Linked DNA regions of Homo sapiens. The protein of the gene in region 1 interacts with the protein of each later gene in a pairwise test. Each region holds a gene or a part of one and is shown in the gene's direction. Other genes may lie near its edges. The genes, in order: RTN3, CERT1, PPP2R3C and RTN4.

Region 1 (7,288 bases):
ACCATGACAGCCAGGGAGCACTTTAAAAATTCCATCTTGGGCCGGGCGCGGTGGCTCACGCCTGTAATCCCAGGACTTTGGGAGGCTGAGGCAGGCAGATCACGAGGTCAGGAGTACAAGACCAGCCTAGCCAACATGGTGAAACCTCGTCTCTACTAAAAATATAAAAATTAGCCAGGCATGGTGGCATGGGCCTGTAGTCCCAGCTACTCGGGAAGCTGAGGCAGAAGAATCACTTGAACCCAGGAGGTGGAGGGTGCAGTCAGCTGAGATCATGCCACTGCACTCCAGCCTGGGTGACAGAGTGAGACTCCATCTCAAAAAAAAAAAAAATCCCATCTTGGACAAAAAAAAGGAAAAAAAAAATCCCAGCTGAGCCATTTCCCACCAAAAACTTCCACTCAATCCCCATTATTCTTAAGACAAAGCCTCAGTTCTTTGGTTCAATACTACTGCTTCTCCAAAAACTGGCCCCAACATATCTTCCTCATTTTAGATGTTATCCCTATATCTTCCCTCCTGTCCTAATTCAAGCCTTCAGCTCCAGCCAATTTGGTCTAACCAACACCCAAGACACCTTATACACGCTCACGTCTGAGCCTTTAGCCACCACATATGGCTGTACAGTCTGAGTGTTACACCAAGGCAGCTTGTGGAGACAAGGGGCAAGAGGGGATCAAATCTAGGTGAGGTTCTGCTAGCCAAATCAGCATGGAACTGTATCATGGGTGGGGCTGGGAGAAAGAGGTTCTTTTTTGTGATTCATCTGCCCAGAAGAGTACTTTTTTTGTATACATTCACAAAAGCAACCCCTGTATTTGCTTCATACCATCCTTTTCTGCTTTTAATGACTTCCTTACAATTCCAAACACCTATCTAACTTTGAGCATCTTCACAAAACCTCCTGGCTGGGCGCAGTGGCTCACGCCTGTAATCCCAGCACTTTGGGAGGCCGAGGCAGGCAGATCACGAGGTCAGGACATCGAGACCATCCTGGCTAACACAGTGAAACCCCGTCTCTACTAAAAATACAAAAAATTAGCCAGGCACGGTGGCACGCACCTGTAGTCCCAGCTACTCGGGAGGCTGAGGCAGGAGAATCACTTAAACCTGGGAGGCAGAGGTTGCAGTGAGCCGAGATCGCACCACTGCACTCCAGCCTGGGTGACAGAAAAAAAAAAAAAACCTCCCTAAGCCACTACAACTTCATGGTAATTCCTTCCCCTCGTTGTTTTTGTTTTTGTTTTTGTTTTTGTTTGAGGTGGAGTCTCACTGTGTTGCCCAGGCTGGAGTGCAGTGGCATGATCTTGGCTCATTGCAACCTCTGCCTCCCAGGCTCAGGTGATTCTCGTGCCTCAGCCTCCCGAGTAGCTGGGATTACAGGTACACACCACTATGCCTGGGTAATTTTGTATTTTCAGTAGAGATGGGGTTTCTCCATGTTGGCCAGACTAGTCTCAAACTTTTGACCTCAGGTGATCCGCCTACCTTGCCCTCCCAAAGTGCTGGGATTACAGGCGTGAGCCACTGCGCCTGGCCCCTCTCTTTTAAATTCATTTAATTTACTTGCCATCTAATCAAAGCACTATGGTTTTATGGTGTTTGGGGTTGTTTTTAGTTGCTATTTAATTTATATTATTTAACTTTATGTGAGTATGTTTTTTGTCCTAACTAGCTTGTAAGCTCATTGAAGACAAGACTAACATATTTTGGAGGTCTCTTCAAAGTTCCCAGAATTGTGTTATACACACAGCACATGATCAATACACATTCATAGAACTGGCCGGGCACAGTGGCTCACGCCTATAATCCCAGGTGTGGGAAACTGAGGCAGGAGGATCACCCGAGGTCAGGAGTTCAAGACCACCCTGGCCAACATGGTGAAACCCCGCCTCTACTAAAAATACAAAAATTAGCCGGACATGGAGGCATGTGCCTGTAATCCCAGCTACTCAGGAGGCTGAACCAGAACTGCTTGAACCCGGGAGGCGGAGGTTGCAGTGAGCCAAGATGGCACTACTGCACTCCAGCCTGGGCAATAGAGCAAGACTCCATCTCAAAAAAAAAAATGTCTGAAGGGTCTGAAAAGACCAGTAAGACCACGTGCATATCTTGCTTTTTAACTTCTCTGCTGCTACATATTAGGAAAATGGACTTCCTTCCAGCTGGAGTCTCCAGATTGTAGCAAGTGCTGTCAGAGTTAGCTACCAGCATCATTTATTTCCTTATCTAGCACTTAATAATGTAGATTTTTGTTTGTTTGTTTTGTTTTAAGGAGCAGAGCGTTTAATAGACAAGAAAGAAGGAAGGAAGAAGAAAACAGCTCCCCTAATAATGCGATTTTTAAAAAAACATATGCACGTATCAGAATGGGTAGATAACTGGCTTGGTTATCCGATCTGCTATTATTTCCCTTTGCCATCCAAGAGACAGTTTGCTGCATTATCAGCTGATGCAGTAAGTGCCAGGGTAAGGTATTAGCCACAAAGTTATTTTGGGAAATATTTTTCTATGCCTTTTTCAGAGCATTGCAAAGGCCAGGAGTCATCCTCCCACCCCCTGGGGCTTTACCTGACCTTAAAAACTCAAGGGCAGATGTAGTACACAGCTTGTTCTAGAAGATTTCCACTGGTCAGATCGCCTTTCCCCTCAGTGGCAGCTTGGCTGACCACCTCCCGCTTCATGAGGCTGCATCTTTACAGGATCTGCTGATCCTGCAATTGTACTTTGGGTCATCGATTGCTGCTTTAGCAGTAACAGTCGACAGCCTTGATTTTTATTATTTCCAGGATACAGTCCTCCTTTTTTTTTTTTTATTTGACGGAGATTTGCTCTTTCACCCAAGCTGGAGTGCAATGGTGAGATCTCTGCTCACTGCAACCTCTGCCTCCCGAGTTCAAGCAATTCTCCTGCCTCAGCCTCCCGAGTAGTTGGGATTACAGGCGCCCGCCACTACCCCCAGCTAATTTTTGTATTTTTAGTAGAGACAGGGTTTCACCACATTGGCCAGGCTGTTCTTGAACTCCTGACATCAGATGATCCACCTGCCTCGGCCTCCCAAAGTGCTGGGATTACAGGTGTGAGCCACCGCGCCCAGCCAACAGTCCTCCTTTAACAAAGACTATGCACCTTTCCAATATTTTGACCAGATGTAGGGAGAAGGCTTCGAATTTGGCAATCCAGCCCAGGAAAAGCAAAAAATGAACAAAATCCAATATAGGCTAGAAATCTGGTTTTAAATACATGTTCTGCTAAGGACCTCTTTTAGTCTATGAATAAAATTCAATTATGTGTATTTTGTGCCTTATTCTGATTTTTTTTACTTTTTTTTTTTTTTTTAAGGCAGGAAGGTTCTCGCTGTGTGGCCCAGGCTGGACTCCAACTCCTGGGCTCAAGTGATCCTCCCTTCTCTGCCGTAGCAGAGACTACGGGCCTCTGCCACTGACTGCGGCCTTATTCTGAATTTTTAATATCTAATTTTATCATCCCCCATAATCACAGCCAACATTTTCTTATCTCCTGGCTCTTCTTCATCAGCTCAGCATTTTTTTTCCCTCTCTAAAATATGTCGTCTCTATCTGACAGTCTATTCGGAGGAAAAGAGAACCTTAAGACCCAAGGTGGACCCTTCTCTGGCAACAGTAACGAGATAAGAATACGAAGCAGGTTCTGCGACTGCATTGCAATGTGATTGGAATGAGTAATCGTTTTTCATTCTGTATAGCATCTTTCTCCACCTACCAAATGGGGGGCCGTGCCATCTCTGCCTCTCGGTGAGGAGATATTACGACACAGCCAGTGAGATTCACAAAGCACCTTGCAGAGTGGGCCTACTCTACACTCTGGTTTTCAGTTTTTATTGGAGTCACAGGTGGGAATGCATCAAACAAAAGATATAGGCTCTGGAATGTACGGGAAAGAGAGTTTCCATAATGGAAGCCCAAAGACATTTCTACCGTTAAAATACATAATCTGCCGACCCTAAAACATTCACATAAAGAGGCAGGAGGGAATACTATCCCGCAGCTCCACGATTAGCCGCAGTCGTGGGCGGGGATTGGGGCTTGGATACGCCTTTTGCGTCTGGTCCCCAAGGGACGCTCCCCAACCCTCGGCGCGCGAGGCGCCGCGTGAGGCCGGCTTTGCCCCTCCTTCCCTGCAAGAGCGCAGAGGAGCGGTTCTTGCGCCTGCGCCCTGCGCCGCTGCGCGCTTTGGCACCCGCTTGGGGCCCTTTGTGCGCATGCGCGCTCGCGCTCCCGCCCTCTAGCTGCGCTCGGCTGAGTCAGTCAGTCTGTCGGAGTCTGTCCTCGGAGCAGGCGGAGTAAAGGGACTTGAGCGAGCCAGTTGCCGGATTATTCTATTTCCCCTCCCTCTCTCCCGCCCCGTATCTCTTTTCACCCTTCTCCCACCCTCGCTCGCGTAGCCATGGCGGAGCCGTCGGCGGCCACTCAGTCCCATTCCATCTCCTCGTCGTCCTTCGGAGCCGAGCCGTCCGCGCCCGGCGGCGGCGGGAGCCCAGGAGCCTGCCCCGCCCTGGGGACGAAGAGCTGCAGCTCCTCCTGTGCGGGTAAGGCGCGCGGGGAGCCCCCGCCCTGGGAAAGAGGGCGAGCGGGAGCCTGGGGGCTGGGGGGATTAGGAGGCGAGGCGGGAGGAGGACGAATTACCCTCGACTACTGACGGCTTCAGCCCCCCGGGGACGAGCGTTTGGAAAATGGGCAAAGGGGAAGGGGAACGTAAGGTTGTGCAGGCGGTGAGGAAATAGCGGGGTGTGAGGAAAACAGGTTGGGGGCGGGGAGATAGTCCAGTGGGCGTTAACGCCAAGACTGGGCAGGTGGGGAAAAATACCAGCTCGTGGGATAAAATGGAGAGTTGCTCGATGCATATGGTGAACCTGGGTGATTTAGTGAGGATTAGAGAGATTGAAAGGATACGGGCAGGTGGGTGGTGGGAGAAACAATTTGTTACTATTTTTGAGGGGATGGTGGTGAAAGGGTTGCATTGCAGGTTTGCAGACAGGTGTTGACATAATCAAGCATTCATGATAGTCCTCCAAAATATTTTTGGCTGCCCATGGGAAGGATGAGGAAGTTTAATGGAAGCATTGTAGCCTGTTTTTTTTGTTTGTTTGTTTTGTTTTTACTGTTTTCGGCTAGACTCCATGAATGCCGGATTTTTCTGAGGCTCCGAGGTAGAAGGAGGCGTGATGAGAATAGCTCAGGGAAGATTTGGGAGGGAGCTGCTAATGGTCCAAGATGGATCCGTGGCTGCATCTGCAACAGCCTGCTCTTCCCTGGCGCTGCGTGGGGGTGGGGACACGCAATCAGTCGCTTATATTCTAGAAAATAGAGTCATGCTAAGCTATCAACATGTTTTGATTTCATGTTTTCTGTGGGCTACTATTGATCGAAGTATAACAAAGGGGGGTGTTTATTGCAGAAAGGGGGAGGGGGAGAACATTCAGACAAAGCAAGGGCTGGTTGAGTCCCCTTCTCCCATCTCTGTGAAAGACTAAGAACGAAGCTGCAGACCTCCTTTAGTTTGCATTGTATACGCGTCTGCCTGCTGGTAAGAGCTGCCTGGCAAGCTCCCCTTATGCAGAAATCTGCAGTGCAGATGCCTTCTTAAGGGGGGAAAAAAAAACCACCATGGGCAGGTGGTAGTTCTCAAAGGAACGGAGTCTTTGAAGGGAAAAAAAATGCCTTTTGTCAAAGGCAGGGCCGTAAATTCGGGAGAGTAGAGATAATTTTGCTCTCTATTTAGTTATGTTAAAGGATTTTGATCATTTTTTTTTAATGCTTCGTTGTCTCCTTTGGCAGAATCTTGGGTTCTAAAGAAAAAATTTCTGATCTTAACCTTAAATGTATTATTCTCTACGTGTTTTTCTAGCAGTGAATTTTCACCTGTCTGAGAGCTTTGGAGCCCTGTTGGATTTTTTCAGTGTGGTTATGGCCATTTCAGTAGAAACAGGCAGTATCAGGAAGCTTTTGCAGATAAAAGAATGAGGCAGCAAATTTAGAACCCTGTCTCCTTTAAACCACCAGCCTTTTCTCCAAATTTTTGTGTTCTGGGCTAAGGTCCAGATGAACAGCGACTTCCTTATAACTTAGCAACTTGATCTTTTTGCTTTAATCACTTGTCATTGCTTACTGTTTGGTAGGCCCTTTTGTACTTACCTTTTGGGTTTTCTTGATTTTTCATTTTTGATTCAGACCTAAGTTTTAGAAATTTGGCTCTGTAAGCTCAAGATAAGACAGATGTTAAGTGTTGAAGAGTCATTTTAGTTAGCAGATTTGAAAATTTAGTCCTAGTTTGTTTATAACTAAATGGTGAAATCATTTGAGATTCAACTTTTTCATTCTTTTAATGCACTTATGGAAGAACTGGCCTAGTAGGCCAATGAAATAAGAGTATTTTGTTCACAGACACACAGGCATACCACAACCTAATTGGCACCTAAATTGGCAATACGAATTTAATGACATAACATATTTCTGTTTGGCTTACCTTTTTTTATGTCATCTACCCTTGTCACAATTTTTATCTATTTATTGTGTATTTTTTGCACTTCTCTTTATAATAGTGGAAAAGGTGCTGAAATTATGTGTTTTGTCGAAAGTAGTAGAATTATATCGTGAAGTGCTGTTCCAAGTACATGAGTTTGCATTACATTTTCCGAATAATATTAAATGCCGCGGTTTCCACTCGTTATTTCTTTCTCTTTTCTTTTCTTTCTTTTTTTTTTTTTTTTTTTTTTTTTTTTTAGACAAGGTCTTGCTCTGTCACAGACTGGAGTGCAGTGGAGCCATCTTGGCTCACTGCAACCTCCATCTCCGGGGTTCAAATGATTCTCATGCTTCAGCCACCCGAGTAGCTGGAATTACAGGCGTGTGCCACCACGCGTGGTTAATTTTCTTTTGGTTTTTTTTTTTTTTTTTTTTTTTTTGGTTTTTTTTTTGAGACGGAGTCTCGCTTTGTCGCCCAGGCTGGAGTGCAGTGGTGCGATCTCAGCTCACTGCAACCTCCATCTCCCAGGTTCATGCCATTCTCCTGCCTCAGCTTCCCAGTAGCTGGGACTACAGGTGCCCACCACCATGCCCGGCTAATTTTTTGTATTTTTAGTAGAAACAGGGTTTCACAGTGTTAGCCAGGATGGTCTTGATCTCCTGACCTCGTGATCCGCCCACCTCGGCCTCCCAAAATGCTGGGAATACAGGCATGAGCCACCACACACGGCCCACACCTGGTTAATTTTTATATCTTTGGTAGAGATGGGGTTTTGCCATGTTGG
Region 2 (7,680 bases), on another chromosome or scaffold:
GCAAACTATCCATCTGACAAGGGATTAGTAACCAGAATATATAAGGAGCTCAAACAACTCAATAAAAGAAAAATAATCTTATTTAAAAATGGGCAAAAGAATAGACATTTCTCAAAATAAGGCATACTAATGGCCAACAGGTAAATTAAAAAAATGTTCAACATCACTAATCATCATAGAAATGCAAATCAAAACCACAATGAGCTATCATCTTACCCCAGTCAAAATGGCTTAAAAAAAATTTTTTTTATTATACTAGAGACGAGGTCTCACTACGTTGCCCACGCTAGTTTTAAACTCCTGAGCAGCTCAAGTGATCCTCTCACCTCAGTCACCATGGGCGGCCTAAAATGGCTTTTATTAAAAAGATAGAGAATAATGGATGGTGGCAAGGATGTGGAGAAAGGGGAACCCTGCTACACTGTTGGTGGGAATGTAAATTAGTACAGTCACTATGGAATACAGTATGGAGGTTCCTCAGAAAACTTAAAATACAACTACTGTATGATCTAGCAATTCTACTACTACGTATATATCCAAAAGGGAAATCAATACATTGAAGAGATATCTGCACTCACACGTTTATTACAGCACTATTCACAATAGCTAAAATATGGAATCAACCATCAATGGATGAATGGATAAAGAAGATGTGGTCTATATACACAATGGAATTTAGCCATAAAAAAAGAATATTGGGCCTGGCATGTTGGCTCACATCAAATCTCAACACTTTGGGAGGCCAAGGCAGGAGGATTGCTTGAGGCCTCCCTATTTCAAGAATATATGGAATAAAAATTTGGGTTTGCTATGTTTTTATTTTTATTATAATTTCTAATAAAGTTGTTTTTCCACTATCCCTTTATTGCTGCTTCTCAGGACTATTCATAAAATGACCAAAAATACAAAAAATAAAATGATAGTAAATGACAATGACTATTTTTCCTGATAATACCAAAGGTTAAATCAATACGTTTTTCCTTTTAGTAGCAACACAAGACAAGGGGATAGTTGCAAGAGGCTCCAGAGATCATTTAAATTATTTATGCGTAATTGGAACATATATTTGCTAGTGTACACTAGCAAGAAAAGAGCTGTAAACTGGCTATATGTTACTGCACCTTAAAAATGCATGTGGATGAATTTTCTTTTAAGAAAACTGTTAAACTAAAGAAAAACTATGTAACACACCTAGAATGTAATCTATCTGGCTCTGACAGATTCTCAAATGTTTAATCATTTAAAAAATTTGGGATAATAGTTTTTTGGAATTTTTTTTTTTTTGAGACAGGGTCTCACTTTGTCACCTACACTGGAGTGCACTGGCATGATCACAGCTCACTACAGCCTCAAACCTCTGGGGTCAAGCTAGCCTGCCACCTCAGCACCCTGAGCAGCTAGGACTACAGATATGTGCCATTATGCCTGAGTGACTTTTCTAAAATCTAAAATCAATTCTATATGTATTAAAAGTTATGTATTGCAAGCGCCTAAGGTCCAAAGTCTGGACTAGACTATTCACTAGCGATGATCTGGGCAATTAACTTCTTTGAATGTTAATTTCCTCATATGTAAAGTAAGAATAATGTCTACCTTGCAGGATTTTTGTGAAGAGCGAATAAATCAAATGAACCTAAAACAATGTTTGACATTTTGTAGGCCTTTGGCAAATGATAATTGCTACTTACAAAAGGCTATGATGTTATTTGGTTCTTTGGTGTCTGACCAATTTTAATCATGTTAGTGATTTTTTTCTTGGGCCTTGTTAATTGCAGTTCCCACAACTTCTCTTCAATCATCAACCAAGTTAAACTTATTTCATTCATCAGTTATTATTTACTGAAAACCTCCTATGTCACACACAATTTTAAATATTTATTCACTCTCTACACATAATTATTGTCAGAATACCTAGACAGAAAAATGCTAGAAAACAATGAATCTACAGAAGAAGTGGTTTATATCTTACTTTTATAGCACCCCAGTCAGATTATCATATAGCAAGATCTTAATAAAGATCTTAAACAGGGATAAAGTATATTTTCATAAACTATCACCATAGCAACATGTTCTATAAAAATATATTTTTTCAACTTATTTGACTAAGAAGAAAAGGATGTGAAATTATAGTAGAAGTGAAACAATAAAAAGGTTAGAAAAAAACAGGAAGCAAAACACGTTTACTAAATAACTATCAAGAGGATTCTACTGATACCTAATATACCACCACACTGCTTTATATAGTATGCCTTTAAAATATTAATAAAAGAATTTCTCACAGTAACAGGAAGAGACTCAAAAGCTAAGCAAAATAAAAACGACAGAAAGAACATGTGTACATGCCAAGAGTGGGCACTAATACTGTTCATTGGTGTACCGTACTGTGTGCTTTTTAGACTAAAAGATTTTCCAATGTTATAGTGAAGCCTATGAAATACCAACTACTCTAACAAGTTTTTATCCCATAAACCAAACAGATAGGAGTAAAAGATATGGGAATACATTTTCAATTTCATTGAATAGTAAGAATATTTCTGCTTGAAACATTCCTAGCCTGGCTCTCATTTCTACAATAGGAAACAGGATAAAAAGGGTGGCCTACACACCCTTTGAAATTCCATTTCTGAAATCACTGTCTTATTCTCGAATGTTAGAACTTTTTATGAGATCTGACATATTCTCAAGCAGCTGTGAAGTGCATTAAGGTATCAATGAGTATCCCCATCTACCTCTTCCCTCCCACTTTTCCAAAAATACAGCTGTCTTTGGAGACTTAAATGGTAAAAATCAACAGATAAAGGAGTCCTAGACAGATATGCAAAGTCACCTTAAGGATCAAAGCTGCAGAATAAGACATGGCAGTATGAGCATAATATAATAATAATTGATATTAGTAAAAGAACTCATCAATATAAATGGAGTGTGGATGGTCAGAAAAAGAAGAAAGTAAAAGAAAGCAAGATAAATATTGGCAATGCCTACTTAAATATCCATTGCCACGATAGGGATAACCTAGCTTCATGCTACCAACCATTCAGAATCGTAATTAATCCCCCATGCAGGAAGAAAAAAATATGATACTGGGATATGGGAGAAGGTCATCAAGCCTAGATTTGAAACCAGGATATAAAGAGCTGGAGTTACAGGCACCTACCACCATGCTCGGCTAATCTTTGTATTTTTAGTAGAGACGGGGTTTTACCTTGTTGCCCAGGCTGGTCTCAAACTCCCGGCCTCAGGTGATCCACCCACCTCGGCCTCCCGAAGTGCTGGGATTACAGGCGTGAGCCACCACACTCGGCCAGCGTTTTCCCTTAGACTCGAAATTTCGCTCCTATCGTCCCATCCTTGTAGTAAGAAAGTACTCTTTCTAAGGTTTAATAACAAATTTTACTCTTGGCAATTACAAGGAAATCGACTATATTAAAATAGCTAACGAGAGGAAATTACTGAAGCTACAAAGTCAAAGTCTCATAATCAAAGTTATCCTTGACAACTGACAAGAGTTGTTAGATCTTCTATTGGTCTTTCTGCTAATTCAACCCTAGTCTTAAAACAAAAATAGCCTCCTATTGCCTAATCCCTTGTACACACAAAACCACTGCACTTCGGTATTTCTAATACGAGAAAGTTTCTATATATCCAACCTTTCCTATCTTTGAGGGGCAGGCATGGTTAACGTGGTTCTCAGTAAGATATTCATTTACAACCAAGAGAAAATCCCAGGCTATCATCTCACATTCTTGTTTTACTTTAAAAACCTTTCTAACGTCATTTATTCTCTGACAACCTCAAAATTACTTTCTACAAAGCAAACTCTAGAAATCTAAAAATGCGAAGTGCGTGCTTGTGAGAAGGTACTAAGGAAATTCTTCCTTTAAACGTCAAATGTGAATTCTAACTTCTAATGAGTAAGACCCTCGAGATTTACAGCGGTGGTCTGGTGGAAAGAAAACCCTTGGCACTAGTAGCTCACAAAACCCCAGCCCATGGTTGAGGCGGAAGCGGCCAGATGCTCCCGGGCTTTCGACAAGCCGCCCTGGAAAGCAGGCCCGTCATCTTCAGCGGAAAGCTCTCTCACGTCTGGGCCCGCAAGCCCGGAGGGTTCGTCATAAACACACAAGGCAAGGATAGAAGCGAGGCCGAGGGGCTGGTCACGCAACTGTCAAACGAAGCCCACCCACCGACTGACAAGGCCCCAAGGGGACAAGCGATCCCCGCGCGGGATACTCACCCGTTACCTCAGGATCGCGACTACAACTCCCAGGAGGCTGCGCGAGCGACGGACCAACGCCCTTCCCAGAATGCAGCACAGCTGCATCCCTACCCCGCCCTCTCCTTTCTCCGCTCCTCCTGCTTTTCTACCCGTCGTCACCCGGGAGAGCCGGAGGTAGGGTTCGGGAGGAGGATCCCGAAGGCTCGGCGTGTCGCGTCAGACGCCGGGAGGGGGACGGGGCGGGGAGTAGTGGGGGAGAATGGGAGGACGAAGGGGAGGGGAAAGGACAGGGGAGGGGAGGGTAAATAGTGGGCCAGGCAGGAAGATGGCGGCGGTAGCGGAGGTGTGAGTGGACGCGGGACTCAGCGGCCGGATTTTCTCTTCCCTTCTTTTCCCTTTTCCTTCCCTATTTGAAATTGGCATCGAGGGGGCTAAGTTCGGGTGGCAGCGCCGGGCGCAACGCAGGGGTCACGGCGACGGCGGCGGCGGCTGACGGCTGGAAGGGTAGGCTTCCTTCACCGCTCGTCCTCCTTCCTCGCTCCGCTCGGTGTCAGGCGCGGCGGCGGCGCGGCGGGCGGACTTCGTCCCTCCTCCTGCTCCCCCCCACACCGGAGCGGGCACTCTTCGCTTCGCCATCCCCCGACCCTTCACCCCGAGGACTGGGCGCCTCCTCCGGCGCAGCTGAGGGAGCGGGGGCCGGTCTCCTGCTCGGTTGTCGAGCCTCCATGTCGGATAATCAGAGCTGGAACTCGTCGGGCTCGGAGGAGGATCCAGAGACGGAGTCTGGGCCGCCTGTGGAGCGCTGCGGGGTCCTCAGTAAGGTGAGCAACCCCTGGTGCCAAGGGACCCCTGGCCAGACTCACCTGCAGCGAGGCAATCCGCTGAGGCGGTGGGGTGGGGCTGGCGGGAGGCGCGGAACGTGCCGGGGTGCGAGGCTGAGTGTTGCTGCAGCGACTAGGGATGAGGCGGGGATATAGGGGCACTGTCCTTGTTGCCCGGGGGCTCGTCGGGGGCAGCCGAGGACCAGGGAAAGGGTGTATAAACCTGAGATCCAGTTTGGGAGGCCAGATGCGCGCCGTGACTTGGGACTTAGGGCGGCAGCTGTCCCGGGTGTAAGGAATCCGGGTTGGGCTTCAGCGGTGTCCGAACGACTGGGCATGGGAGCGGTTCAAGTCGGACCTCTTAAAAGAGGTTGGTCTCTCTGAGGATGCCAAGCCGAGTAGGTTGGGGGGCACTGCGGACGCAACTCTTTCGACAGAAGCTGGAGCGACTCAGCTTGGTGTTGAAATTTGAGGTGTTGAATTCTGCTAGGTTAGATGTAGTGAGACAGATGAATGTGGAGGACTTTCTCCCTCACCCTGTACCTTAGTTCAGAATAGAGATATTGAATCGGCACATGATGGGTACAGGAAATATTCATAGTAACTTGGAACATGTGAGAATGGAGACTGATCTTTAGTCCAGGAAGAGCATTACTTAATAATAAAATATTTTTGCGGTAAGGGGTCGAGGGTAAGGAAAAGATGTTTTATCTTTTATATATTTTTTAAAATCCCTGTATCAAAATTTTAGCAAAGCAGTCATTATAGGACTGCAGGTGGATGATCTCTTGATATTACATAGTTGTGGGGATTTTTTTTTTAAGTTTTTGCTGTAAGAAGATTCACGTAGCCTTTTTGACTTCTCTCTCCCTTCCTGTTAAACTTTTTTAGACATGGCTGGAGCTAGCAGTTAACTTGGAGAGGGGGAGCTGGGCCAGTCCCTCAACAAGCTGGTCATAAGATACTATGTCATGTGCAGCCAGTGGCTATTAAGAAATCACCCTGTTTCCAGTATTCATATTTGGCAAATCACTTGGACATTATTTGTGGAATTGTTTCATATTAGGCTTTTATAATGTCTAGAAAGCTAATGAGAAGGGGGCCAGGAAAGGCATGAGTAGTCAGAACTAAGGATTGCAAGTGTTGACTTTTATTTGTATAGCAGCAAAATTATGTTGTATATTGATGCTGTGATCATTCTTGAAATTTCAGTGCAAGGTTTTCAGTAACGAGAAGCTCCTCAGGATTTCTTTAGATTAAATGTATCCTGTAATTTAGGAATCTCTATTGAACACATTGTGTAGTAGGTATACATTTTCAGTTGGTAATAGGAAGTGGGTTACTTGCTTCTCAGTGATTTTGGTAGTTTCATCACTGCTCATAAGATGGGAAGCTGACTGCCATATTAGTATTGTGATGTGTTAAGTATTTTACGAAACAAATTGTACTTTTGACCTACTGATAATTACTTTTTTGGGGGTTGGGGGAGTGGAGTGACCGGGGGAAAAAGTAACCAGTGCTCTGGAGTAGGTATACTATAGATAAAAAAATGGAAGACCAATCTCGATATTTAAATGCATACAAATGTATTTGATCACCTCTATGGAAGGTGAATAGCTTAAATTTTGACTGTTGCTGCATATGTAGAATGAATAGGAATAAAGCTTTTGGTATTCTTGCTCAAAGCTATGAAGGAAATTTTCCTGAGATTTACCAATTTATGGTTATATACAGTTTTCTGGAAGCTTTTTAATCAAGGGTATTCTAAATTGAGTATATATACTCATACTGAGTATGGTAGATGTTTTTAAATGTAAATTATATAGTTTGAATTCTTTGTATTCACCTGGTAATTTAAACAAAGGTCAGAACTCGGATTTTGTTCTTTTCCTTCCATTGAGTAATGTAAATAAGTCCCGGTACAATTCATTTTGTTTCTCCCCCAAAATGGGGTGGATTTGGAATGGGCTTGGGTAAATTTATATTAGAAATATACCAGTTCAAAGGGTATTTTCCATATGGTAATCTGAAATACATGGAAATACCTATGAAGCATATTTCTTATAAATCACTTAAGTGTATAGATTCCAAAAATACTAGATAGACAATAATTCTATCTAGTTATAGCAAGTATCGTGATGGATCATGGTGGGGAAAAGATGCATGCCTTAGTAGGACTTGAGAGCACCTAAGCCTGGATAAAATAATCTCATTCAATTTCTGAATTTCCTCCATCCTTCATGGTTTACCTTCTGTTTTTCCACACACCAAACTGTTTGAAATTCTGTCCATCCTTAAGAGTCCAAGCCAAATACTGTCCTTTCCATAAAGCCTTTTCTTATTTTGCCATCATTCAAGACCTCCTTCACTTGAATTCCCATAGCATTTTGTTTGTAGCTTGCTTCTGACTCTTATTCTAAATATATATTTTTTTCTCTTGAGTTTGTGTCTGCTGGCCTGTTGGCCACAGTAATATTTGATTCCCCTGCAGTGTCTAGCATATTGCCTTATCTGTATTTGTTAAATGGGGAAGAGTGAGGGAACATTATGAGAGCAGAGAAAAGACAAAAAACTTGTCTTCCAGGTGTCATGATACAGCTAATACTTACTGAGTAAAGGGTCCTGAAGCTGATACAGTTTGTT
Region 3 (8,119 bases), on another chromosome or scaffold:
TCTCTGTATGCAAAGTATGTTTTTTTCCTCAGATACTCTAATTACAAACTTGTAATTATCCTACCCTTAAGGTGTTCTTAAATATTTTTCAATTAATAGCAACAAAACCTACTAAACCAAAATCAAACAAGTTAAAAATAAACATTGGTCTTCACCTTTTTCGGACTGTGGTGAATTGTCCTTTCCATTGTTTTCCAGGAACACTATGAAAAGATTGCAAAACCAAATCATGAGAAGGTTAGATTCCTACTGAAATGAAAGATATTCATGGTATTTGGAAACTCTTATAAGCAAGAAGTCCGAAAAGTTCAAGATACTTCTGTAGAATGGTTTAATTTAAAAAGTGGCTGCTATCCTGGATGGGGTTAAGAAGCTGCTGGTACTCTGCTCTGGATCTCCTTCTTCCCTGTGGTTCTCCTCCCAACAAATAACTCTCATCTTCAAGTCTACCAAAAGCGGCTGACCTTAGTAGCATAACCTCTAAACCAAACTCAACTCTTACCTTCTCCATAAAGCTGCCAGAAATTGCTCCTGCCGAGAGTAATTTACCTCTTACACACCACTGTTATTTCACTGTGTGGTACTGTATTCCCAATTAAATTGAGAATGTCATAATAGATTTTATAAAACACTCGCAATGCCTAGCCTATTTGGAAGCATTCAAAAACTATGTATTGATGTATTTGTTCAATCAATGTATCCTTTCCTCCTTCCCCTTCCACATATTACCATCAGTTCTTATGATTCTACTGCCTTCTCTCCTTCCTCAGTTCTTAATTCTCATCATCTCTCACCTAAACCTAAAATTGTATTCACGCAGATCTCCCTGTTTTCAATCTTAATCCCTCTCCTATCTACTCTTCTCACTTGGCAACTGCCTTTGTAAAACTCCATTCCAGCATTATTTTTTTCTTTTGAGACAAGGTCTTGCTCTGTCGCCCAGGTTGGAGTGCATGGCGCCATCACAGCTCCCTGCAGCCTTGATTGACTCCCTAGATTCAAGTGATCCTCTTGCTTCAGCCTCCCAAGTAGCTAGGACTACCGGCACACACCGCCATGCCAAGCTAATTTTTGTATTATTTGTAGAGACAGGGTTTCACCATGCCCAGGCTGGTCTCCAACTCCTGGCCTCAAGCTATCCTCCCACCTCAGTCTCTAAAAGTGCTCAGATTACAGGCGTGAGCCACAGCACCCAGCCAAATCCAGCATTCTTGATAACAGAATAAAATCCAAACTCCTTGGTATTCAAAGATTTTCACAAATGGGCTCCTCCTCCCTTGATCTTCAGTAAGTTTAAGATAATTAAGCATAATTACTGCTTCAAAGCTCCGTAAACATGATATAGGGGAAAAAAAGGCAAGAGAAAAACAGAGGGAAGGAACAAATTTTTAGGAAGCAAATTAATGAAGAAATAATGACTAAGCATGGTGGCTCACACCTGATCGCTTGAGGCCAAGAGTTTGAGTCCAGCCTGGTCAACACAGCAAGACCCCACCTCTTAAAAAAAGAATATTAATTTTAAAAAATAAGTAAAAATTTTCAAAAATTTTAAAAAAGACTAAAGCAATAAACAGGTATGTACCCAGTAACATGAATAAAGCAAAAGCAAACCAAAGGAGAGAGCTTTAGAGAGACAGCAGCCAAATGATAGAAAGGTCCAAAACAAACTGGAAGGGTTAAGATTTTCCATTGTAATGCTTACGTATAAGGCTTGATCAATATCCCCCTGTCCACTCTAATCATCCAAGTTGATGAACTATAGATAGTAGACAGAATAGGCCGGACGCGGTGGTTCACGCCTGTAATCCCAGCACTTTGGGAGGCCGAGGCAGGCGGATCACCTGAGGTAGTTCGAGAGCAGCCTGACCAACATAGAGAAACCCCGTCTCTACTAAAAAGAAAATAGAAAATTAGCAGGGCATGGTGGCGCATGCCTGTAATCCCAGCTACTCGGGAGTGTGAGGCAGGAGAAAACCCGGGAGGCAAAGGTTACAATGAGCCGAGATCATGCCATTGCACTCTAGCCTGGCAACAAGAGCAAAACTCCGTCTCAAAAAAAAAAAAAAGGGAGAGAGTAGACAGAATAAATATAAGCATATTATCTCAGTCGCTAGATTTCAGAGGAACTTCTGAAAATACTAATATGGCCAGAGACAGTTCTAGTCAAATGCTATATTCTTTTCTTGCTATGAACAGTGGCCATAAGTAGTATTAAGTACTCACATCATACTAGATGCCTAAGAAAACAAAATTAATGATCCTTCCAAAAGGAAAAAAATGTAAAAATTAAAACTGCTATATAATTTCAGTTTTATGTGATGGGTAAAGATTAGCACAAATTATGTATGTTGTTACTTTTTTTAAAGAGAGAAAATTTTGTCGTAAAGAGAAAATAAATCTTACTAAGAGATGGAAAAAAGTATAATCAGAAGAGTGATTCTCAGCAACTAACAACAAAAAAGAATGGCTACTTTGAGGTTTAAAGTTATTAAATTAAAAATAATTAGCCAGGTATGGTGGCACATGCCTGTGGTTTTAGCTACTGAGGAGACTGAAGCGAGAGGATCACTTGAGGCCAGGAGTTTGAGGTTACAGTGAGCTATGAACACACCACTGCACTCCAGTCTGGGCAACAGAGCAAGACCCTGTCTCAAAAAAAAAAAAAATTAAAGAATAAAAACATACATATAAAAAAACCAAAATTACCTCTCAAACCATGTTTTTATACTGTGTGCAAATGACTCCCCTGGATACAGCTGATTATTTCTTAGATATGAAAGAATATCTAGTAGTTTATTTGAATAGTTATCATCCTTTATGTCTTTTCCAAAATCAAAGAAAGCTTTTAAAGTTTCCAACATAGGAACAATATCATGACCTAGCAATTCCTGATATAAATTCCAAGCTGTGTTTACATCTTGATGAAGGAGAGCTCCCTGGATACAGTCATTATAGTTCTTTTTTGAAGGAGTTATAACTTTTTTGATGTCCTCTAACAGCAACAATGCTTCTCTCCATCTGTCTGAATGGATCAATCCCCGGATGAGAAGACTGTAACCTCTAGGTTCTAAAGTCTTATATCTGGCTTTCATAATTTCAAAGACATCAATAACTTCAGATGTCTGCATATGAAAGACACAGAGATACAAATACTTGACCAGTAAATCGTAACTTACAATACCATTATTTTTGGCTGCTACCCATGCCAGCAGAGATTTAGCCACATCTATAGAGCTATGACAGCCAGCCATCTGTGAAATGATCCAACTTTCGAAACTGGTCTTTCCGGTGTTTTCTTTTAAATCTTCCTTAAGTTTATCCCACTCCTCTGAATTCAAAGGTTGTGTTGGGAGTTGAATAGTGTTCCTCACAGGTGCCAAGGCATGATCTTCAGTTTGAGAATTCATCTGTGATCTCTCCTTAGCTGCTCCAGCTAAAAAAAAATGAGGAACAGAATAAACTTGCTTATTACTGCCCTCATCTTTCCTGAGATATCTGGCCTTGGCAATCAGATTCGTTGCTTTGGTATTCTGTGGAGACATTGTTTTAAGAGAAAACAACCTCTGCTGGTTCCTGATGCCACAGCGGTCTGCCAGAAACAGCGAGACATAAGAGTGCCCTGGGCCTAGCCCAAGGTATGGGCTCTTCCAAAGCTTCGGAAAGCTTCGAATACCAAACAAATAGAAAGTCATTATGCAGTGAGATCAGCACCAGATAGTGAGAGAGATGTTGAAAAAACCCCTCTTCTATGGCAAAATTAAAGAGATTGGGGGTCGGCGGTGCAGAGTCGAAGTGGAACTTTTTAAAAGGTTTGTGTTTCTTCCTTACAGACAAATCAAGGTTCTGCTTTTGGGGCTACTTAAAAGCAAGAAGGCAGGTGAGTTTTCTCTATTAAACAACAATCCGGGGATGTCCAACGTCGCAAGCCGCAAACCAGGGGACAGAGCAGGAATCCTCTGGTGCCTCTTACATTCCAGTTCATGAACCTGAGGAAAAAGCACAAGACGGAACGCCCAGTTTTACTCACGTGGATCACAGCTGTCCTGAAAAGGAACAGATTCCCACGGGAAGCTTGCTGGAAAGGGGGTGTAAAGCCAAAACCGTATCCAGGGACCCCCAACTCCAGCCTACCACCAACAGCGGCGAAAGCCGAAGTCTAGGGGCCCTCACCCTGCATAGCTCTCTACAGACCGCAAAACTCCTCCGGTGGGGGGACGAGGAGGGAGGAGGTGGCGAGTCAGCTGCGCCAACGACTCAGGAAAGGAAGAGAGGTACAGGAAGGGCGCTGCCTAGACTGCGTACCGAACGCTGACAAATGAAGTTCACTTCATTCAACAACTCAAAGCGGCACTCAGACTTAACGCGGCCATAAACGCGGCGGAAACTACAGTGCCCACGATGCACCGCGCCAGCCCCGACCGACGGACGAGACTGACCCGGACTTAGGCGTTCCGCCTGGCCCGGCGGCGAGGAAAAAAGGCAGTTTTGAAGCATTTAGTGGCAAAAGGGGTAGGAGACGGCTGCTGAAGTGTCTACTACATTCAGGGGACCTGGAAGGCTTCCAGATATCCGCAATGAACAATGAAAAGAAATTGTGAAAGAAGGCGCTTCCCTCAAGCCGGAACTAATGAACTCCTGGGTCACGTGGTGCGCACGCGCCAAAGGCACACGATAAAGGAAAACGCGGGCTTATCGTGGCCTTTAAAATCCGGCTTGGTGAGCTTGGGTCGCCTCTGAAGGAGAACCATTTTCCATCTCTTTCATAGTTTTTTCCCCCAGTCAGCGTGGTAGCGGTATTCTCCGCGGCAGTGACAGTAATTGTTTTTGCCTCTTTAGCCAAGACTTCCGCCCTCGATCAAGATGGTGGTTGGACGGCCTTCCTAACCTTTACGGGGCCTGGCGGTGCTGACGCCTGAGCTGGTAGGGGTGGAGCAGGTAGGAAACAGCAAATGCAGAAGCTGCTGCGCGGAAGTCGGCCATGGACTGGAAAGAAGTTCTTCGTCGGCGCCTAGCGACGCCCAACACCTGTCCAAACAGTGAGTTTTGGGAGGGGCAGCCCGTTGGGATGGCCCGGCCCTAAACTCCTAGAGGTAGGGGGGAGGTGGGGAGGAGGAGCAAGGGGGAGCCGCCTTTTCCGCTTCTGTGAAACCTCCCGACAAAGGAGGCGGAGTGGAATGTGGTTTAAGGATCCCGATAGGTTTGACCCAAACTTTCCTGGGGCAGAATCTAGAGGAACGAAAAACTTAGCTTTAGTCACTGACTTCCATGGTCTTAATCTAAACTTGTGAAGAATAACTTGGAACCCCGGCTCCAACAACGCCTGAACCCCACCAGGACCTATAATTGTCCTCCTGCCTTTTTACTGTCACGCTTTTTGCTTCCCTCGTAATCCATTTTATATTTCATAATCCATTTTTCCTTTTATTTTTCTCCTTCACATTGCTTATTAACTAACCTCGTTAAATCTACCTTTCCTATTCCACACCCGCACTAAGGGCTGTTGAAAGTGGCTGGAGAAAAACAGAACCTTGGTGAGTTGTCTCACTTTTTTTTTTGAGACGGAGTCTCTTGCTCTGTCGCCCAGGCTGGCTGGAGTGCAGTGGCAGCATCTCCGCTCACTGCAACCTCTGCCTCCCGGGTTCAAGCGGTTCTTCTGCCTCAGCCTCTGGAGTAGCTGGAACTATAAGCGCGCGCAACCACGGCCGGTTAATTTTTGTATTTCTAGTAGAGACGGGGTTTCGCCATATTGGCCAGGCTGGTCTCAAACTCCTGACCTTGTGATTCGCCCACCTCGGCCTCCCAAAGTGCTGGAATTACAGACGTGAGTCACCGCGCCCCGCCGAGTTATCTCACTTTTAATACAAGTCCACTAATCTAAAGAAGGTGTTTTGGTCATGTCTACCGTGTTTTCCTGGACGTTCATTCTCCTACATTCAATTTTCATCTCCCAAACTGCCAATCTGTGTTTTCCTAAATACACTTTTTTTTTTCCGATACAGGATCTCCCTGTGTTGCCCAGGCTGGAGTGCAGCGGCGCAGTGAAGTATTGCTGCAACCTCGATTTCCTGGGCTCAAGGGATCTTCCCACCCCAGCCTCTTGAGCAGCTAGAAGTACAGGCACACGCCACCACACCCGGCTAATTTTTTATTTTTAGTGGAGATGAGGTCTTGCTATGTTGCCTGGGCTGGTCTCGAATTCCTGGCCTCAGGCAGTCTTCCTACCTCCACCTCCCAAAGTGTTGCTATTACAGACGTGAGCCGCCGCACCCAGGCAACACTCTTTTACACTATTCTTCTCATCTCCTACACCTGCAGTCTGTCCTACCCGCTTCTTACTTTAAGCTGATGAACTTGTATTTTAATATATATCTCATTAAGAAAGGAGAAGCAGTCGGCCGGGCGCGGTCGCTCAGTCCTGTAATCCCAGCACTTTGGGAGGCCGAGGCGGGCGGATCACGAGGTCAGCAGATCGAGACCATCCTGGCTAACACGGTGAAACCCCGTCTCTACTAAAAATACAAAAAAATTACCCGGTAGTGGTGGCGGGCGCCTATAGTCCCAGCTACTCCAGAGGTTGAGGCAGGAGAATACCTTCAACCCGAGAGGCGGAGCTTGCAGTGAGCCCGAGATTGTGCCACTGCACTCCGGCCTGGGCGACCGAGCGACACTCAGTCTCAAAAAAAAAGGAGAAGCAGTCAGAGGAGAACATCACCTGTCCCCCTTAACATTTCTTTCAGCCCCACAACCCCACAGTTAGTTGCCCATACACTCTGGCTTCACTGTTAAAATGATGAACTGATGCCGGGCGCGGTGGCTCAAGCCTGTAATCCCAGCACTTTGGGAGGCCGAGGCGGGCGGATCACGAGGTCAGGAGACTGAGACCGCAGTGAAACCCCGTCTCTACTAAAAATACAAAAAATTAGACGGGTGCGGTGGCGGGCGCCTGTAGTCCCAGCTACTCAGGAGGCTGAGGCAGGAGAATGGCGTGAACCCGGGAGGCGGAGGTTGTAGTGAGCCGGAGATTGTGCCACTGCACTCCAGCCTGGGCGACAGAGCGAGACTCCGTCTCAAAAAAAAAAAAAAAAAAAGATGAACTGTCCATGCTCCTATTTAAGAGTCCCTCCAGTCCACCACTAGATTGCATTCTTTTCCCTGTATTCACTGACTTCCTTCCAGCCTCCTCCTTTCTTTCCTACATCATCAGATTTTCCTTCTGCTGGATCATTTACACCAGCACAAACGTGCTGTTAATATCACCCATCTTTTTAAAAGGTGGGTGGTCGGGGGTAGTGGTGTTGGGAGGCTCGGTGGCTCATTCATGTAACCCCAGCACTTTGGGAGGCCGAGATGGGAAGATCGCTTGAGGCCAGGAGTTTGAGACCAGCCTGGGCAACATAGTGAAACACCGTTTCTACAAAAATAGAAAGTAAAAAATTAGCCCGGGTGGTTGTGCACCACTGTAGTCCTAGCTACTCGAGAGGCTGAAGCAGGGAGGGTTGTTTCAGTCTAGGAGTTTGGGGCTGCAGTGAGCTATGATCATGACACTATACTGCAGCCTGGGTGACAAGAGCCAGACCCTGTCTTAAAAAAAATTCATTTGGGCTGGGCACTGTGGCTTACACCTGTAATCCCAACACTTCGGGAGGCCGAGGTAGGCAGATCACTTGAGGTCAGGAGTTCAAGACCAGCCTGGCCAACATGGTGAAAGTCCGTCTCTACTAAAAATACAAAAAGTAGCTGGGCGCAGTGGTGCACACCTGTAATCCCAGCTACTTGGGAGGCTGAAGCGGGAGAATCGCTTGAACCCAGGAGGCAGAAGTTGCGGTGAGCTGAGATTACGACACTGCTCTCCAGCCTGGGCGATAGAACGAGACTACATCTCAAAAAAAAAAAAAAAAGTCATTTGATCCCACATCCCTCTCCAGCTTCTGTTGCATTTCTCTGCACTCTTCATAGGAAAACTTCTCAAAGAAGTTACCTGTACTTGGCTGGGCGCAGTGGCTCATGCCTGTAATCCCAGCACTTTGGGAGGCTGAAGTGGGTGGATCACCTGAGGTCAGGAGACAGACCAGCCTGGCCAACGTGGTGAAACGCTCTCTCTACTAAAAATACAAAATTT
Region 4 (7,215 bases), on another chromosome or scaffold:
CGTGGCAAACATGCCTGAAGGCCTGACTCCAGATTTAGTACAGGAAGCATGTGAAAGTGAATTGAATGAAGTTACTGGTACAAAGATTGCTTATGAAACAAAAATGGACTTGGTTCAAACATCAGAAGTTATGCAAGAGTCACTCTATCCTGCAGCACAGCTTTGCCCATCATTTGAAGAGTCAGAAGCTACTCCTTCACCAGTTTTGCCTGACATTGTTATGGAAGCACCATTGAATTCTGCAGTTCCTAGTGCTGGTGCTTCCGTGATACAGCCCAGCTCATCACCATTAGAAGCTTCTTCAGTTAATTATGAAAGCATAAAACATGAGCCTGAAAACCCCCCACCATATGAAGAGGCCATGAGTGTATCACTAAAAAAAGTATCAGGAATAAAGGAAGAAATTAAAGAGCCTGAAAATATTAATGCAGCTCTTCAAGAAACAGAAGCTCCTTATATATCTATTGCATGTGATTTAATTAAAGAAACAAAGCTTTCTGCTGAACCAGCTCCGGATTTCTCTGATTATTCAGAAATGGCAAAAGTTGAACAGCCAGTGCCTGATCATTCTGAGCTAGTTGAAGATTCCTCACCTGATTCTGAACCAGTTGACTTATTTAGTGATGATTCAATACCTGACGTTCCACAAAAACAAGATGAAACTGTGATGCTTGTGAAAGAAAGTCTCACTGAGACTTCATTTGAGTCAATGATAGAATATGAAAATAAGGAAAAACTCAGTGCTTTGCCACCTGAGGGAGGAAAGCCATATTTGGAATCTTTTAAGCTCAGTTTAGATAACACAAAAGATACCCTGTTACCTGATGAAGTTTCAACATTGAGCAAAAAGGAGAAAATTCCTTTGCAGATGGAGGAGCTCAGTACTGCAGTTTATTCAAATGATGACTTATTTATTTCTAAGGAAGCACAGATAAGAGAAACTGAAACGTTTTCAGATTCATCTCCAATTGAAATTATAGATGAGTTCCCTACATTGATCAGTTCTAAAACTGATTCATTTTCTAAATTAGCCAGGGAATATACTGACCTAGAAGTATCCCACAAAAGTGAAATTGCTAATGCCCCGGATGGAGCTGGGTCATTGCCTTGCACAGAATTGCCCCATGACCTTTCTTTGAAGAACATACAACCCAAAGTTGAAGAGAAAATCAGTTTCTCAGATGACTTTTCTAAAAATGGGTCTGCTACATCAAAGGTGCTCTTATTGCCTCCAGATGTTTCTGCTTTGGCCACTCAAGCAGAGATAGAGAGCATAGTTAAACCCAAAGTTCTTGTGAAAGAAGCTGAGAAAAAACTTCCTTCCGATACAGAAAAAGAGGACAGATCACCATCTGCTATATTTTCAGCAGAGCTGAGTAAAACTTCAGGTAATCCAATCTATATGCAGTTTTGTGCTTTCATGCCACTTTTGGATTTAGGGAACATTCCACTACATTTTGTGTTTTATATTATGTTTATAGTGTCTCATATGTCACATTGGTAAGAAGTCTTCTCCACTTTTTCAGTTAAAGGTTTTAGTGCTTTTTCTAACTCTCTTGCACTCAGCATTCACCCTTAACTTTTCCACACAGTTACACTTTTATATTGCACTATGGAACTATTAATAGAAAATATTTTTGTTTATAAGAATTGGCTTTAGTACCTATTTCTTTCTTTCTTTCTTTTTTCACTTGTGTTTCTTGATAACATGAAGAGCAAGAGATATTAAAATATTTTCAGATGTGTTTTTGTTATCCCAGAAATTACCATATTTAATTTTTAAAGAAAATTTCTATAGTATGTTTTAAATATTTCTATATAATATAGTACTTTTCCAGTGGTAGGTATAAAGTTAGGCATATTGAGTGTAGACATTTTGTTGAAAAGTATAAAATGAGTTATGCTATTATGAATTCTTTTGAAAAGTACCGATTCTCCTTTTTTTCTTTTGACTATCCATTTTCCACATACCTGATTTGCATAAGGTGATTTGCACAAGGTGATTTGCACATGTGCTCTTTATTAGCATTCTGATTTAGCTGCGTTTTCTCTAAAATAGTGATTATGATAAATTTACTGAATATACTTATGTATTTAAGTGCTGGTGCTTCAGCAGTACAGTCCAGCTCATCACCATTGGAACAGTGGTAGACCAGTTGCTGTAATCTAAGAAAGAGGAGATTATGAACATTCAGGCAGTGGGATGAGCACAGAGACATAGGACTTGGTGTTTGACGGATAGGGACATAAAGGATGAGGGGAAGAGGTAAAGATGACCCCAGGAACCCTGGATTTCATTTCTGGCATGTGCACTTGTATGGGTGGCAGTATGAGAAACTGAGATAGGGAACATGAGAGATTAAAGTAGGTTTAAGAGGGAAGATACAAATTTGGTTTTGGATATGTTGGTATTGATGTACATACCTCTAAGATATCCAGTAAGTTATGGATATTATACACATGAAGCTCTTGAGAGAGATCTTGGCTGTATGTGTCTGTCATGGGCTTAGAGATAGAAATTAAAGCCCCAGATACCAATTAGGAAGAATCAAGAGAAGAGGACTACTTGAAGGTGGAAGAAATGGTCAAAATTATCAAATACTGGAGAGGTCAGTTAAGGATTGCAAGTTGGTCAAAAAGGAGGGAAGATATTGTCATGACAGCGGCAAATGGTGTGGTGTGCATGGGCATGGCTAGGATTGAGAAGTGAATGAGACTTGAGTAAGTGGTTATTAAATGTTGATTACTCTTAAGAAGTTTGAGATTTTTATTGGAGAAAAATTAAAATATTAGCAAGCAGGAAGGAGAGTATGCAGTGGAGGTAGGACTTTTTTTTTAAGGTGGGAAGGGGAAAATCTGATTACAGGTGCTGGCAGAAAGTCAGAAGGGGATGGGGATGTGCTGCCTAGTTCAGGTGGAAGAATTAGTGTTAGAGAGAAGGAACGATAGAGCTTTGATTGTAGTGAGTGGAAAGGAAAGTATGGGGTATTGATACTGTTAGGGTTTTGTGACTGAAAGTTGAGGGAATTATTTGATGGTTTATGTTTGTTCTTTAAAGCAGTATGTTAGTTCATTTGCTGGGAATGAAGTAGATCATGCTTGGGTGGAAGAGATCTGCAATACCTCTGACTAGGGAAACCAAAGGCATTGTATTAGGAGCCTAATCAAGGTTGAAAGGTGGTCTAAATGGTAGGGTGACTTTTCTTTGATTGTGCCAAACAACCTAGGTATGGGTTCAGGGAAGGCAAATGATTGTATTGATTCAAGGATGTGTTTTGGCAGGTGGGCCCTGTGGAAGGACAGTAAGTCAAGAAAGTTGAGGGTGATAGCAGGAGAGTAATTTGAAGTGATGGACTGTGGCATCTAAGTTGAAGGATGTGAATAGAAAAAGGTAGGAGAGGTAGGAGGAGAGTAGATGGTCAGTGAACTCAAGGCCCAGATTAGGTTTAAGAACCAATAGTAGTAGGAATAAATACATGCCAGAATGATAGGAGATTGTGGTCAAAGTAGGGGAGAGAAAGAATGCATGTGCGGGAGAGCAGGGTGTGTGTGTGTGTGTGTGTGTGTGTGTGTGTGTTGGATGTTGAATTTAGAATTTCAGAGGAATAGCAGTTCAGGTTGATTATAATGGCCAGTGTTAGGCCATCAGGCAAAGGCCTACTGTGTAGTCAGATTAAGATTGCTAGAGGTGAGGTCAAGTAAACTATGAGGCCATGATACTGTATTGCACTTCTACCTAACATTGAAGTCACCCAGGGTGATGGCAGGACTAGGGGTGGAGAGGAATACTGGGGTTAGAGTCCTTGGTAAAGGGCAGTGAGGTAACTGGCAGGATGGTAGGTAGAAGAAATGAGGAAGGACAGAGAATGACGTAGCGGAATAGCCAAGACTTTTGCCCAAGGTCTCTGAAATAAAAGTCTGGAAGCAGCATTGGTGAGCAGAGGGTACTGACCTCCCCACTCCTCCCTTAGGTGTGTAGAATATGAGAGAACGATTTAGCCTTCATTTAGCAAGTTCCACAGGGAAACCAGTATCTTCAAGGAACAGCCAGGTTTTAGTGAAGGCGAGGTAAAGGCAGGAATGTTCAGTAAAGATGTTGAGGAGTAGAGGAGCTGGTTCACAGTGGAATGGGGGTTTCAAACAGCACAGTAAAATGGTTTAGGAGGGAACAGTAGAAAGAAGGGTCTCAGAAGCCCAGAGCAGCTTGGTGATGACTGGGTGAAGAGCAAGGAGTAATCGGTGTAGCAACACCTTTGAAGTCTCCCCTCCCCGCTAGTGCTTCCTCCCAAAACTTAAAGCTAGCAGTCCTCTAGTAGATGGTGGCCCTTAGGAATTTCAGTATTTCAGGAGTCACCTATTTCTTGGATTGTTTTTGTTAAACCTGGGAAATCTATAGCCTAATAGTTTAGAAGTAAGGGAAGAAAAGGGGGCATTGCCTTTGAAAGCTTAATGGGAATGGTGGAAGAAAGTGTAAGCAATGCTTGGGCATTCTCTTTTAGAATATGTTTATCTCCCTTCTCTGAGAAAATTGTTATTTCCTGCCTTTTTGACTTAACCTTTTTTGATATTAGTTATCATAGCAACTTACTAGGGAATAGAGAATTATTTAGATACACCCAATATATATATTCTACAAAAGTTGTGGGAAGGAAACCCAGTATTGCTATAATGAAAACAATATAGGTGACCTGAGGTTTTAGTCTTGGCTATACCACTGACAATCACTTTGTTTCTCTAGATGTCATTTTCCTTTTCTATAAAAGGAAGGGTGGATTAGCTCAAGTCCTTGCAACTTAATAATTTTCTTGACTTGATTATATAACAGGCATCTGTTAAAAGCAGGTAAGTAGTGGCCAGTCACAATGGCTTACGCCTGTAATCCCAGCTTTCAGGGAGGGAGAGGTGGGAGGATAGCTTGAGCCCAGGAGTTCGAGACCTGCCTGGGCAATATAGTGAGACTCCGTTCTCCACAAAAAAGGGAGAAAAAAAAGACAAAAAAAAAAAAAAGTGTAAAAGCAGGTAAGAGTTGCTTTAACATGCTTCTATCAGGCACTATATGAGATTTTTTTTTGGCGGGGGGGGCAGGGAAAAAGATGAAACTAAGACAAAGTTTTGCGCTTTATGCAACTTACAGCCAGCTGGTACAGACACACTGTTGAGGACATAGTTAAACATTGTGATCTATGTTATAGTGAGGATAGGTACTTACCTGTGTATCTTCGTGAAAGGGAGGTTCAAGTGTACTGAAGTCAAATGTACCAAAATACAGCAGTGGTCTGATAAAACATAAGGGAAGCTCTCTTCTCAGATGACTTAAAAGTTTTATGCCATCTCTAATTATGAAATATTTAAGTGTGTTTTTAAAAAAATTCTGGGTCTTATTAATGTATATGCATTTAAACATTTAAACTATTAAATAATAAAATACTAATTTCCTCAGATCATTTATTATCTCATATGTTCTTCTTTTCTTTTTTCGAGACAGGTTCTTGCTGTGTCGCCCAGGCTGAAGTGCAGTGGTGAGATTATGGCTCACTGCAGCCTCAACCTCCCAGGGTCAGGTGGTCCTCAGCCTCCCAAGTAGCTGGGACCAAAGGCTCGTGTCACTATGCCTGGCTAATTATTTTTGTAGAGAGGAGGTCTTGCCTTGTTGCCTAGGCTGGTCTCAAACTCCTGTGTTCAAGGATCCTCCCGCCTCTGCCTCCCAAAGTGCTGGGATTACAGGTGTGAGCCTCCAGGACTTTCCTGTTCTTGTTTTCTTAAAATGACATTTTGTAGGCAGAAATCAGTTTTAGTTTTGGGAAGAAAGATTGATTTTGCAAGAGAGATGAATAAGGTATTGTGATGCAGATGGTGCTTTATTAATTTTGGGAAGTAAAGTTTGTCAAGAAACTAATGAATTCTGGTCTTCCTCCCCCTCCATTTACAAAGAAATTTGTGACAAACTATATTCTTACTATTGGAATGTAAATACTGATTTTTTTTCTCAGTAGTAGTATCAATGAATGTTCTTGGCATTTCCCCAATGAATGTTCTTGGCATTTTTTTTTTTCCAAAAATTGATTGGCTATAGATATGTTAATTAATTTCTGGGTTATCTGTTCTGTTCCATTGGTCTGTGTTTCTGTTTTTATGCCAGTACCATGCTGTTTTGGTTACTATAGCTGTGTAGTATATTTTGAAATTTAGTAGTGTGATTCCGCCAGCTTTATTTTTGTTCAGGATTGCTTTTGCTTTTTGGAGTCTTGTGGTTCCATACAGATTTTAGGATTTTTTTTCCTATTCCTGTGAAGAAGGTCATTGGTATTTTATTAGGGATTGCATTGAATCTGTAGACTGCTTTGGATATTACGGCCATTTTTTAACAATGTTAACTCTTATGATTCATGAACATGGAATGTCTTTCTTTGCATTTGTTTGTATCCTCTTCAATTTCTTTCATCATTGTTTTGTAGATTTCCTCGTAGAAGTCTTTCACCTCCTTGGTTAAACTTATTCTGAGGTATTTTTTTTTAAGCTATTGCAAATGGAGTTTCCTACTTGATTTCTTTTTCAGCTAGTTTGTTGTTTGTGTAAAGACATGCGATATTTTTGTTATTGATTTTATATCCTGCAACTTTACAGAATTTACAAGTTTTTGGTAGTCTTTAGGTTTTTCTTTATATAAGATCATGTCATCTGCAAACAGGGACAATGTGACTTCCTCTTTTCTAATTTGGATATCCTTTATTTCTCTCTTGCTCAATTGCTCTGGGTAGGACTTCCCATTTCAGTCTTTATTTATTTGTTATGACATTAGCAGTTTTAAAGAACACAGGGCCTCTCTTCCCCCGACTTTATAATAGAACATTCCTCCTAGTGGATTTGTCCGATGTTTCCTAGTGATTAATTTGAGGCTATGGGTTCATTTATGATACTGTATAGATGATGATGTGTCCCTCTCATAGCACCACTTCTAGAGTTATCTGCTATTCATCAGTCCCTCACTGGTTATGTTAATTTTGACCGTCTGGGCAAGATGAGCTCTGATTTCCTTATATTGTCTTTGTTTCTCCCTTGCAGATGATAAGCAGTCTGAGGAGTGACACTTGAACACATGCAGATATCCTGCTCCCTATCAAAATTCGCCCCTCCAATTTAGTAAACCATTGATGATTCTTGCTTGATCCAGTCTTTACCATGAGAGTTGAAAAATGATTTTAACTCCAGTACTCC

What was found.
Region 2: the proteins of RTN3 (region 1) and CERT1 interact in binary tests that used the Homo sapiens proteins (3 or more experiments, as listed by UniProt).
Region 3: the proteins of RTN3 (region 1) and PPP2R3C interact in binary tests that used the Homo sapiens proteins (3 or more experiments, as listed by UniProt).
Region 4: the proteins of RTN3 (region 1) and RTN4 interact in binary tests that used the Homo sapiens proteins (3 or more experiments, as listed by UniProt).

What each region holds. Positions count from the first base shown.
Region 1 is NC_000011.10:63,677,212-63,684,499, forward strand, and holds the start of RTN3 (reticulon-3), read left to right. Parts: upstream 1-4,288; 5' UTR 4,289-4,425; coding exon 4,426-4,567; intron 4,568-7,288. UniProt on the Homo sapiens protein: May be involved in membrane trafficking in the early secretory pathway. Inhibits BACE1 activity and amyloid precursor protein processing. May induce caspase-8 cascade and apoptosis.
Region 2 is NC_000005.10:75,508,469-75,516,148, reverse strand, and holds the start of CERT1 (ceramide transfer protein), read left to right. Parts: upstream 1-4,519; 5' UTR 4,520-4,643; coding exon of another isoform or gene 4,644-4,941; coding exon 4,942-5,037; intron 5,038-5,079; exon of another isoform or gene 5,080-5,375; intron 5,376-7,680. UniProt on the Homo sapiens protein: Shelters ceramides and diacylglycerol lipids inside its START domain and mediates the intracellular trafficking of ceramides and diacylglycerol lipids in a non-vesicular manner.
Region 3 is NC_000014.9:35,118,819-35,126,937, reverse strand, and holds the start of PPP2R3C (serine/threonine-protein phosphatase 2A regulatory subunit B'' subunit gamma), read left to right. Parts: upstream 1-4,947; 5' UTR 4,948-4,978; coding exon 4,979-5,036; exon of another isoform or gene 5,037-5,099; intron 5,100-6,109; exon of another isoform or gene 6,110-6,111; intron 6,112-8,119. Other genes in the region: PRORP (mitochondrial ribonuclease P catalytic subunit isoform 1 precursor), read right to left, coding at 156-203, 2,707-3,692. UniProt on the Homo sapiens protein: May regulate MCM3AP phosphorylation through phosphatase recruitment. May act as a negative regulator of ABCB1 expression and function through the dephosphorylation of ABCB1 by TFPI2/PPP2R3C complex.
Region 4 is NC_000002.12:55,019,259-55,026,473, reverse strand, and holds part of RTN4 (reticulon-4), read left to right. Parts: coding exon 1-1,388; intron 1,389-7,215. UniProt on the Homo sapiens protein: Required to induce the formation and stabilization of endoplasmic reticulum (ER) tubules. They regulate membrane morphogenesis in the ER by promoting tubular ER production.